Linked DNA regions of Homo sapiens: all the other regions are linked to region 1. The links come from fine-mapping of genetic effects on gene expression. A gene starts in region 1. Each other region holds a variant in brackets. All regions are shown on one strand. Distances are between the middles of the regions.

Region 1 (4,242 bases):
CAAAGTCAAAGTTGCAGCGGGGGGCGATGGCTCACATCTATAATCCCAGCACTTTGGGAGGCCGAGGCGGGCGGATCACCTGAGGTCGGAGTTAGAGACCAGCCTGGCCAACATGGCGAAACCCCGTTTCTACTAAAAAATACAAAAATTAGCTGGGTGTGGTGGCGTGTGCCTGTAATCCCAGCTACTCAGGAGGCTGAGACAGGAGAATCACTTGAACCTGGGAGGAGGAGGTTGCAGTGTGCCGAGATAGCACCACTGCACTCCTCCAGCCTGGGCAACAGAGCCAGACTCTGTCTCAAGAAAAAAAAAAAAAAATTAGTCGGGTGTCAGGGCAGGCACCTGTAATCCCAGCTACTCGGGAGGCTGAGGCAGGAGAATCTCTTGAACCCGGGAGGAGGAGGTTGCAGTGAGCTGAGATGGGACCACTGCACTCCAGCCTGGGCGACAAAGCGAGACTCTGTCTCAAAAAAAAAAAAAAAAAAAAGGCAAAGTTGCTCCATACCAAGACCAGATTTTTAAAAAGTCAAAGTTGCAAATTTTTAAATATTATGCACTTGCAGCCTAGGAGCTGATTTAATAAGGCAGAGCACCTTTAAGTATCAGTTATGAGTTAAAATAAAGGGAAGGGGGCCAAAAAAAATATGGTTGTGAGTATAAAATGCAAAAATAAAGGTAAAGGTGAGTATTTTGTCAGCCTGTAAAAAAAGCCTCTTTAGTTTTCAAAGTACTTAATTTTTAAAGTACATCCTACATTAGAACCTAAGTCAGCCAGATAACCAAGAATACACATTTACACAGAAATGAAGCACAGCAAAGGTGTGAAAATTAGGGCAGGAAGCATAAAACATGAATCAAAGAATGCAGAAATACAACAGATATAAGCTACAATTAAATATCTCACCGGATGCACACACAGTTTTATATGGAATAATCAAAGCAGCAGTGATACCCATCTTATAAATAAAAATCTAAAAGCCAGAGAAATAACAAGGTTAGAGGATTAATATGAAACAAAATGAGAACTCCAAAGATTTTCTGAAAGCAGAATTACTGTTTTTTCTTCATATTATGTTGCCACTCCAAAGCAAGGGGAAAACTCGCATGAGTAAGAATCTAGAAACCTGAGAAGTTTCGAGAAGAACAGACTCAAACTGGAGTGAAAATAGGCAAAAAGAGTGAGGCATAAGGCTACGACTGGGAGCAAAATGCCAGATGCAAGTCTTGGACACGGAGGGGAGACGAATAAAGCCTTCTTAAGCGGAAGGTGGAGAAACACTGGGGTTGGATTTGGTGGGAGGAAGACAAAACGGAAAAGCACGGCCCAAGAAGCAACGGCAAAGGGAGAACTTAAACAAGATTAGATTGATGCCACAATCGAAGAGTATAAGACCTACAAATCAGATTCTGCCGGGTGGGGAAAGGGCCAGTTCGCGACCGATCAGGTGCGACTAGTTTCCCAAAAGCGGCAAAGATGTAGCTTCGCAGCCCCACCCCACGACAGCAGCTCCTCCCCAAGGAGGACCTCACGAGGTCAACTGCCGGGCTCAGGTTCTCCCCCGGAGCCTAGGTTCCACCCCGCCCCGGCCGTGCGGCACAGAACTGCCTCTCTGGGCCCCTCACCGAACGCTGCAGCTCCCCAAGCCAAAAAGAGGCGCGCTCCTTTCCGCTGGGATCTGGGTCGTGGTAAAGCGCCTGCACTGCCTGGTACACGAGCTGCAATGTCGGCTTTGCTCCTTCCATGGTGGTGGCGGTAGTGGCGGTAGCGACGGCTCTGATTCTTCTCCGGAGGATTCCTCGGTTGCTCCGCCTTCGCGCTTCCTCACTGTCTGGGCCACGGCCGCTCCCTGACTGGCGCCATCTCCTCCTCTTTGGCCGTTACCAGGGCAGAAGGCTCTCCGTGGAAGTTGCCCCCTCGGAAACAGCTATTAGGTCGTATTCAGGTTCCTGGCCTTTTTTCCGGTTTTTCCACTTGATTCTAGACTCTTGAGTCCACAGATTCTGGCGCTCCCGTCTTCAGTCGCTGACTTGCCCTCAGAAGCCTATCTTGGGAGGCCACACACCAGTGTACCTAAGGTTCGTTTACCCGGACCGGAAGCGACAGCACCGATACCTTTGGCACACTTCCGCCTGGTACACTACAAACGGCCTCCTTCCCGGCACGCCTCCTCTTGTCTCCCCGCCCCCTCCCGGAAGTAACCCTGCCGGGCCAGGAGCCGGGAAGAAGAGCCGGTGTTCTCTCTGTTCCTCGCTAGCAGCTTGGGACATTAGCGCCGAGATGTGCCCCATATCTGAGCTGCCTTCAGCTCCTTGGAAACGGATCCAGGTTTTTCCTACCCCTTCCGACTGCCCCATCCCTCTCCAGAGAATCCTTTTCTGCCCTGGTGATCAAGGCGCGTCAATTCAACTCTCCCTAGAGTGGCCACAGTACTGGAGATCCAAAGATGACTTAAGACATGGTACCTACGCTGGCTCTAGTGGAGGAGACAGACACGTAGTCAACTGAACTATTTTACAAACCTGAAATATGTGCCACATTGAGATAAATCCAAAATGCCTAGAATCTTTGTTCAGCTCCCCTTTACTTAGTTCTTAAGCCCAAAAGAGGTCTTCATTCTGCTTACAGCTCCTGGTGCTCTAACTCCAGAGCATTTTGCATACATCTTTAGGGTTATTCTCACATTGAACTGTATTTTTGTGAATGCCTTTCTGTCCGAATCCAATACCAGTGGTCTAACAATTCACAAAAGAAAACAGAAATATTGGAAACTGTACTATGGAGAAATTAGGGACAAAAGGTAACAGTATATTGATATTAACATTGCTGCTAGTCCTTTGCACTAGTAAATAACTGCTATTTGATAAATGATCACAATGTGTAAAACACTGTAGTTACAAGATCTCATTTAATCCGCCTAACAACCTTGCCAAGTATTAATAAAACCCGTTTTAGGCGCTGACACTGACCTACAGCGCCTCAGCTCCAGCGCCATGGCGCCCTCCAGGAAGTTCTTCGTGGGGAGGAACTGGAAGATGAACGGGCGGAAGAAATGTCTGGGGGAGCTCATCGGCACTCAGAACGCGGCCACTGTGCCTGCCGACACCAAGGTGATTTGTGCTCTCGCCACTGCGTATAACGAGTTGGCCCGGCAGAAGCTAGCTCCCAAGATTGCTGTGGCTCCGCAGAACTGCTACAAAGTGACTAATGGGGCCTTTACTGGGGAGATCAGCCCTGGCATGGTCAAAGACTTAGGAGTCACGTGGGTGGTGTGGTCCTGGGGCACTCAGAAGGCGTGTCTTTGGGGAGTCAGATGAGCTGATTGGGCAGAAAAGTGGCCCATGCTCTGGCAGAGAGACTCGGAGTAATCGCCTGCATTGGGGAGAAGCTAGATGAAAGGGAAGCTGGCATCACTGAGAAGGTTGTTTTTGAGCAGACAAAGGTCATCGCAGATAATGTGAAGGACTGGAGCAAGGTCATCTTGGCCTATGATCCCGTGTGGGCCACTGGTACTGGCAAGACTGCAACACCCCAACAGGCCCAGGAGGTACACAAGAAGCTCCGAGGATGGCTTAAGTCCAACATCTCTGATGCAGTGGCTCAGAGCACTGGTATCATTTATGGAGGCTCTGTGACCAAGGCAACCTGCAAGGAGCTGGCCAGCCAGCCTGACGTGGCTGCCTTCCTCATGAGTGGTGTTTCCCTCAAGCCCGAATTCGTAGACATCATCAATGCCAAACAATGAGCCCCATCCGTCTTCCCTACCCTTCCTGCCAACCCAGGAACTAAGCAGCCCAGAAGCTGAGTGACTGCCCCTCCCCTGCACATGCTTCTGATGGTGTCATCTGCACCCTATTGTGGCCTCATCCAAACTGTATCTTCCTTTACTATGTATACCTTCACCGTGTAATGGTCGGGACCAGACCAATCCCTTCTCCACTTACTGTAATTGTTGGAACTAAATGTCACCAATGTGGCTTCTCCTTGGCTGAGAGGTGAAAGGGATGGAATTTGCTCCTGGGTCCCCTAGGCCCTAGTGAGGGGAGGAGAGAGAACCCATCCTCTCCCTTCTTACACTGTGAGGCCAAGCAGAAGCCAGGGGTGCTGCCCTCTCCCACGGTGCCAACGCCTTTGTGTGTTGTGTATGTGAGCCATCCCACATGTGAGGGAAATAAACCCCTGGCACTTAAAAAACAAACAAAAAAACGCATTTTAAAGAAAGAAAAATAGTAATGTAATTTGCC
Region 2 (4,242 bases), 23 kb after region 1:
AAAAATTAGCCAGGCGTGGTGGCATGTGCCTAGAGTCCCAGCTACTCGGGAGGCTGAGGCAGGAGAATCGCTTGAACCCGGGAGGCAGAGGTTGCAGTGAGCTGAGATCATGCGACTGCACTGCAGCCTGGGTGACAGAGTGAGACTCTGTCTCAAAAAAAAAAAAAAAAGATATTTTTATATTTATACATGCATGCACATACCAGAAGTTAGCAGAGACCCCACCCCCACTCCTTCACTGCCTCATTTCTTGGGATTCCCGGCAGAGTTTACACAGATTCCCTGCTAAGGCCACAGGCTGTCGAAATCCAAAACTATCCTTGTAGATTTCTGCCAGCCCCAGTGCTCCTTTTCCCATGGTCTCCCCTCCTGCCATCAGAGCTGCTTGCAAGGAATCCCACGTAGAACTCCCTATCATGTAGATGGAGCAACTCAGAGCATTCATGAGGTATTTCTGGAAATGCTTGGTGACCATTTGGAGGTGGCAGGGAATGGTCACATGGGCAGGTCACAGCTTTTCTGTTCCTATTAGCTTCCTCTTTCCTTCTTTCACCCCTTTCTGGAAGGAGTAAAAGAATCTCTTCTCTTCATCTTGTGTGTAGAATTCAGGATGGAAGCCTGGCTTAAGGGATATTTCCTCCTTTTTGGCACAGTCTCCGAAAATGTCAACGTTTCAAAGTGTTTGAAGGCAATACATTGACACAATGGTTGTTGAGACTATGAGAAAGAATATTTGAGAAAGCAGTGTGTCTTAGTCCATTTGGGCTACGATACCATAGACTGGGTGGCTGATACACAACAGAAATTGATTTCTTACAGTTCTAGAAGCTGGGAAGTCCAAGATCAAGACACAGGCAGATGCAGTGTCTGGTGAGGGCCCATTTCTTGGTTCATAGATTGCAGCGTCTTGCTGTGTCTTCACATGGTGGAAGTGGCCGTGAGGTTCTCTGGGGCCTCTTTTATAAAGTTACTAATTTTATTGATTAAGTCTCTGCCCTCATGACCTCATCTCTTAAAACTCCCACTTGCTCATGTCATCATATTGGAGATGAGGTTTCAATGTATCACTTTTGGGGGCACACAAACATTCAAACCATAGCACAGTGTGAAAGTAACACAGTGAGAAAGCTAGAGAAGTTTTCAAAAACTGGTGTGTTTTTAGGTGCCTGCCAGCTACCACCCCCAAACAGTGCAGGGAGGCTGTTTCCTTTCTTGGGTGTTCTACTGACCACTAATTTTTACCTCTAACCCAAACGTTTATTAAAATATTTTCTTCCAGTTTTCATCAAACTTGAACTGTTGCTCTGTAAAAGACAATTTTAAAAGAATTAAATAATAAACTACAGATGAGGCATAATATTGCAAATCACATACATGGCAAAGAATTTGCATCTGGAATATATAAAGAACTCCCAAAATTCAGTCATAAGAAATGGACAAACAACCCAATTTAAAAATGGGCAAAAAACTTGAACAGACAATTCACCAAAGAAAATATATAGAAGACAAATAAGTACATGAGAAGATGTTCAACATCATTAGCCATTAGGGAAATACAAATTAAGATATCACTACACACTTAATAGAATAATAAAAATAAAAAATAACAGGCCAGGAATGGCAACTCACGTCTGTAATCCCAGCACTTTTGGAGGCTGAGGTGGGCAGATCACTTGAGGCCACGAGTTCAAGACCAACCTGGCCAACATGGTGAAACTCCATCTCTACTAAAAATACAAAAATTAGCTGGGCCTGGTGGTGCACACCTGTAATCCCAGCTACTCAGGTGGCTGACGCACAAGAATTGCTTGAGGCTGGGCGCGGTGGCTCACACCTGTAATCCCAGCACTTTGGGAGGCCAAGGCAGGCAGATCACAAGGTCAGGAGATGGAGACCATCCTGGCTAACGCTGTGAAACCCCGACTCTACTAAAAATACAAAAAGCTTAGCTGGGTGTGGTGGCGGGTGCCTGTAGTCCCAGCTACTCAGGAGGCTGAGGCAGGAGAATGGCGTGACCCCGGAAGGCGGAGCTTGCAGTGAGCCGAGATGGAGCCACTGTACTCTAGCCTAGGCGACAGAGCGAGACTCCTCGCTCGAACGCTTGAACCTGGGAAGTGGAGGTTGCAGTGAGCCAAGATTGAGCCACTGCACTCCAGCCAGGGCAACAGGGCAAGACTCTGTCTCAAAAGAAAAAAAAAAGATATTAGGAATAAATAGTGCTGACGAGAATGTGAAACAACTTCAACTCATACATTTCCGGTAGGAATGGAAAATGGTACAGCCTCTTGGAAAACAGTTTGGCATCTTATAAAGTTAACCATATACCTACCACATGACCCAGCAACCCCACGCTTACGTATTTACAGAAATGAAGACATA[G/C]GTGCACACAAAATTCTGCATGTGAATGTTTATAGCAGCGCTATTCATAATTGCCCCCAACTAGAAATTATCCAGATGTTCTTCAGTGGCTGAAACTATAAAGAAACTTTTTATTTTTTTTTTGAGATGGAATCTCACTCTGTCGCCCAGGTTGGAGTGCAGTGGCGCTATCTCTGCTCACTGCAAGCTGTGCCTCCCTGGTTCAAGCGATTCTCCTGCCTCAGGCTCCCGATGAGCTGGGATTACAGGCACCCGCCACCACGCCCGGCTAATTTTTATATTTTTAGTAGAGATGGGGTTTCACCATGTGGGTCAGGCTGGTCTCAAACTCCTGACCTTATAATCTGCCCACCTCGGCCTCTCAAAGTGCTGGGATTGCAGGTGTGAGCCACCGCACCCGGCCAAGAAACTTTTTGCACTGGTACATTCATACAATGAGATACCAGTCAACAATGGAAAGAAACAAATTATGACACTGGTAACAACTGGGATGATCCTCAGAGGCATTACACTGAGTGTGAGAAGCCAGTCTCAAGACTTACATATTGACTAGGTGCAGTGGCTGACACCTGTAATCCCAGCACTTTGGGAGATCAAGGCAGGAGGATCACTTGAGACCAGGAGTTTGAACCAGCCTGGGCAACATAGTGGGATCCCATCCCTACAAAATATGCAAAAATTAGCCATACGTGGTGGCACATACCTGTAGTCCCAACCACTCTAGAGGCTAAGGTGAGAGGATCACTTGAGATCAGGAAGTCAAAGCTGCAGTGAGCTATGTTTGTGCCAATGCACCTCCAGCTTGGGCAACAGAGCAAGATCCTGTCTCAAAAAAAAAAAAAAGTTACACATTGTATGATTTTATTATATGACATTCTCGAAAAGACAAAACTATAGTGTTGAAGGACATATTAATGATTTCTAGGGATATGGAATTGAGGGGAGGATATAATTACAGAAAGATAGCATAAAGCCAAGCACGGTGGCTCATGCCTATAATCCTAGCACTTTTGGAGGCCAAGATGGGAGGATTGATTGAGCCCAGGAGTTCGAGACAAGCCTGGGCAACATGAGACCCTGTCTCTGCAAAAACCTTAAAAAATTAGCTGTGTGTGGTGGTGTGCACCTGTAGTCCTAGCTACTTGGAAGACTGAAGCGGGAGGATCACTTGAGCCCAGGGAGGTCAAGGCTGTAGTGAACCATGATTATGCCACTCCAGCCTGGGTGACAGAATGAGACCTTGTCTCAAAAGAAGATAGCCTAAGAGAGTTTAGAGGGGTGATGAAGCCATTCTGTATGCTGATTGTGGAGGTGGTTAAAAGAATCTGCATGTGTTAAAACTTGTAGTACTTTTAAAAAAGGGTCAATATTGCTGTATGTTAATTTCTTTGTTAATTTTTTAAATTTTAATTTTTTTATTTTACTTTTTGGACACAGGGTCTTGCTTTGTCACCTAAGCTGGAGTCCAGGGGCATGTGATCACAGCTCACTGGCAGCCTTGACCTCCTGGGCTCGAGCAATCCTCTCACCTCAATTCCCTGAGTAGCTGGGACTATGGGCATGCACCACCATGCCCAGCTAATTTTTGTATTTTTAGTAGATACAGGGTTTCACCATGTTGGCCAGGCTGGTCTCAAACTCCTGACCTCAAGCGATCTGCCTGCCTCAGCCTCTCAAGTGCTGGGATGACAGGCATGAGCCATCACCCCCAGCCTTCTTTGTTAATTTTTTAATAGAAATAGGATCTTGCTATGTTGCCCAGGGTGGTCTCAAACTCCTGGCCTCAAGTAATCCTCCCAAATCCTTGGCCTCCCAAAGCGCTGGAATTACAAGTGTGAGTCACCTCGCCTGTTCTGTGTGTTA
Region 3 (4,242 bases), 28 kb after region 1:
AGTTGTAAACAAGGTGTAATTATAATGGATATTGATCGTATTTCTTTATATTAAACTCTGAATACCACAGGTGTTCACAGAATAATAATCTACTTTAGAAAGGAGTTTTACCATTTGCATTAAAAGCTTTAAGGCGAGCAAGACAGCTATGAGTTTGCTCCACTTTACAAATGAATGAGGAAACTGAGGTTTAAAGGTAGTTACTGGCAATAACAGAATTTAGACCAGTTTCTTGATACCAAACCTAATATATATTCCAAGACACTCCCACTGTCTCTTCCCAGTTCTCAAAGAACTATAATAAAATGAAAATAGCTAACTCTGACACTGTTTTCAACATATTCTTCGAACCAGCAGAGAGCTGATTGATGTCATCTAAGGGAAGTGGTTTGGAGCTGGAAAAGTCTCCTTCAGGGCAATCACCTTTTTTTTTTTTTTTTTTTTTTTTGAGATGGAGTCTGCTCTGTCGCCAGGCTGGAGTGCAGTGGCGTGATCTTGGCTCACTGCAATCTCCGCCTCCCAGGTTCAAGCGATTCCCCTGCCTCAGCCTCCCGAGTAGCTGGTACTACAGGTGCGTACCACCATACCCAGCTAATTTTTTATATTTTTAGTAGAGATGGGGTTCCACCATGTTGGCCAGGATGGTCTAGATTTCCTGACCTCGTGATCCACCCACCTCGGCCTCCCAAAGTGCTGGGATTACAGGCGTGAGCCACTGCGCCTGGCCAGGCAATCACACTTTTCAGGATCAGAACTTCCACCCTGAAGGACCACAGGTTCACCCCTGGCAATACACAGCGAGGACCAGACTCTGAGAACAGACTCACATTGGAAAAGGGACATAGGAGGCTGAGGGAGACGCCGGGCTGCCAATTCACTCATTGACCATGATAATTGGGACTGTTACAGGGTCAGCTACTTCTCCCCTACAAGTCTCTCTCTGCAGCATATTCTCTCTGGTCGGTAGGTCGCCATGAAAATGAGAAAGTTGACTGCCAAGTGGCCATGGAAAACACATGGAAATTAGACGAAGCCCCAGGGTTCAGTGGTAACAGGTGAGGCTAAGATAGCCTAGGCCAGTCATCCTATAATAGAGGTGGTCTCACCAACAGGTTACTTACTGCAGAGTACTCACATCCCATTGGTTACAACCTCCTGCCTCCACATCTCCATTATAAGTTGTTTTGTCATTTAAAGGCTGTGATTTCCTTTGTGCCCAATACATGGATGGGCAATGCCTATGTCCACCTCCCAGAAGTGTCCTCTTCCAAGAATCCATGCTAAACAATGCCCCTTCTAACAAACAGATTTTTTTCAATCTTTTAATTTAAACAATCAAATCCTAGGAGCCAGGCTTTTTTGTCACATGCTAATTATATATTGATCTTATTATTAACTTTCTATGATTAGGACGGGCACGGTGGCTCACGCCTGTAATCCTAGCACTTTGGAAGGCCAAGACAGACCGATCACTTGAGGTCAGGAGTTCGAGACCAGCCTGAACAACATGGTGAAACCCTGTCTCTACTAAAAATACAAAAATTAGCCTGGCATGGTGGTGCACGCCTGTAGTCCCAGCTACTCGGGAGGCTGAGGCACAAGAAACACTTGAACCTGGCAGGTGGAGGTTTCAGTGAGCCAAGATCGAGCCACTGCACTCCAGGCTAGGTGACACAGCGAGACTCCATCTAAAAAAAAAAAAAAAAAAATGATTGCTAATTGCCCTCTGATGTAATAATTCCCCTTCCTCTTCTTTTTTTTTTTTTTTTTTTTTGAGACGGAGTCTCACTCTGTTGCCCAGGCTGGAGTGCAGTGGC[G/A]CAATCTCAGCTCACTGCAACCTCCACCTCCAGGGTTCAAGCGATTCTCCTGTCTCAGCCTCCCAAGTAGCTGGGACTACAGGCCTGCACCACCACACCCAGCTAACCTTTTTTGTATTTTAATAGAGACGGGGTTTCATCATGTTGGCCAGGATGGTCTCATGACCTCGTGATCCACCCACCTTGGCCTCCCAAAGTGCTGGGATTATAGGCATGAGCTACCTCGTCCAGCCGGTGTTTTAGGTTTTTTCTGTTATTATCAAACTGAATTCTAACTAATATTCATGATAATTTTATTCCTCTTACTTTTAAGTTCTTGTGGTCCCAAAGTACAATAGTAAATTTAAGATTCTAGGCTGGATGTGGTGGCTCACACCTGTAATCTTAGCACTTTGGGAGGCCAAGGTGGGAGGGTCACTTGAGCCCAGGAGTTTGAGACCAGCCTGGGCAACATAGCAAGACTTCATTTCTATTAAAAAAAAGAAAAAAGAAAGATTCTGGAATGCTTCAGACTCCGTGTTATACAAGCTTTCTGACAGTGTGATGAATCAGGGAGGAGTGAGTTAACAAATTTCTGACCAGACAACTGACCGGAAAAAACAGCTTGTGGAGTGCTCAGTATATCATTTCATTCCTCAGGTTCACGTAACAAATGTTCAGAAGCTCAGAGCATATTTCATTCCCATGCGATTAATCTTACCCCCTGCACTACTTTTGTATCTCCCCTTAGTAACAGGTTCACCCTACCTTCAATGTCTACAGGAGCTACGGAAAGAAATGCAGAACGAAGATAAATCACCCACCAGAATTGTTAGCAAGAGAAGTGCTGGCAGCAATAGGTCCTCTTACAAAGAAGAAACTTAGAATGAAGCTTTTCCCAAACAGCCTGAAAGGTTCTTTTATCCTCCATAAGTAGCTGCTCACCCAATTTTTGACAAATCCTCATTTTTGCTTCAAAAATAAATAGCAAACACTTACCTATATTTACCATATGCCAGGAACTGATCTAATCATCTTACATATATTATTATTATTGAACAGCAATTTAAATTAGGTTTTTTTTTAAAGGTGGTTATTTTTATTTTTTGCAATGCCATGGTTGTAGGAGTGTATGAAGAGGTAACACATCTCCTTTTCCTTGACTATGCTTTTTTTTTTTTTAACCTTCTGCACAAAGGTAAAGGTTTTTGTTAATCTCATAGTTAATGGTATAAAACAGAGGTCATGCCGGGCGCGGTGGCTCACGCCTGTAACCCCAGCACTTTGGGAAGCCTAGGTGGGTGGATCATGAGGTCAGGAGTTCAAGACCAGCCTGGCCAAGATGGTGAAAGCCCGTCTGTACTAAAAACTACAAAAAAAATTAGCTGGGTGCGGTGGCAGGTGCCTGTAATCCCAGCTACTCGGGAGGCTGAGGCAGGAGAATTGCTTGAACCTGGGCAGCAGAGGTTGCGGTGAGCCGAGATCACGCCATTGCACTCCAGCCTGGGCAACGAGAGTGAAACTCCGTCTCAAAATAAATAAATAAATAAATAAATAAATAAATTTTAAGGGATATGGTTTGGAGGGAGCTTTCAGGGTAAAAGTATAGTGACATGACAAAGGGGAGGTGACAGAATATTGTAGAGTCCTTTGTATTCTTTCAAAATAGCTTTACTGAGATATAATTGACATACAGTAAACTACATGTTTATAGTGTAATTGGATAAGATTTGACATACATATACACCCGTGAAACCATGACCACAGTCAAGATAATGAAAATAGGCCAGGCACGGTGGTTCACAGGAATCACTTGAACCCGGCAGGTGGAGGTTGCGGTGAGCTGAGATCATGCCACCGCACTCCAGCCTGGGCGATAGAGTGAGAGGCTGTCAAAAAAAAAAAAAAGATAATAAAAATAAATATCAGCCCCCAAAAGTTTCCTTGTGTCCTCCTGTGATCCCTTCTTCCTGGAAACTTCCCCCAAACTCTCTCCTCAACCCCCCATTGTCCCTTATCTGCTTTCTGTAATTATGGATTGGTTTATATTTTCTAGAATTTTATAGGAATACAATCGTACAATATTTATTCTTTTATTTCCAGTTAACATAGCTTTTATTCAAAAGTCCTTACTCTTGTCTGGTTTATTTCACTTGGTCTAATTATTTTAAGATCTATCCACATTACTGCATGTACTTTAAGTGGGTGAGTCGTACGCTATTTGAATTATCTCTCAATAAAGCTGTTACTAAAAACAAACCACAATGAGATATCACTGCGCACCCATTCGGATGACAAAAATTTAAAAAACAGACAAAAGCAACTGTTAGTGAGGGTAGGGAGAAATTGGAACTCTCATACCCTGCTAGTGAGTGGACTTGTATAATGATGCAGCCACTTTGGAAAACAGTCTGGCAGTTTCTCAAACATTTAAACATAGAGGTAT

What was found. PIP is the estimated chance that this variant, and not a neighbour inherited with it, causes the effect. A credible set is the group of variants that fine-mapping cannot tell apart.
Region 2: its variant is the best candidate, but not a certain one, in a credible set for the expression of TNPO3 in whole blood (INTERVAL, PIP 0.59).
Region 3: its variant is the best candidate, but not a certain one, in a credible set for the expression of TNPO3 in whole blood (TOPMed, PIP 0.66).

What each region holds. Positions count from the first base shown.
Region 1 is chr7:129,053,028-129,057,269 of GRCh38, forward strand. TNPO3 (transportin 3) reads right to left here and starts at 2,084. Exons shown (of 23, transcript NM_012470.4): 1 at 1,624-2,084. The coding sequence starts at 1,743. It also overlaps the pseudogene TPI1P2. RefSeq lists enhancers at 1,617-2,116, 2,928-3,222 and a silencer at 2,928-3,222.
Region 2 is chr7:129,075,594-129,079,835 of GRCh38, forward strand. No RefSeq gene overlaps it. Among named protein-coding and RNA genes, the nearest start is that of TNPO3, 23 kb to the left of the region's middle. The variant G/C (reference allele first, on the strand shown) is at 2,380.
Region 3 is chr7:129,081,324-129,085,565 of GRCh38, forward strand. No RefSeq gene overlaps it. Among named protein-coding and RNA genes, the nearest start is that of TNPO3, 28 kb to the left of the region's middle. The variant G/A (reference allele first, on the strand shown) is at 1,818.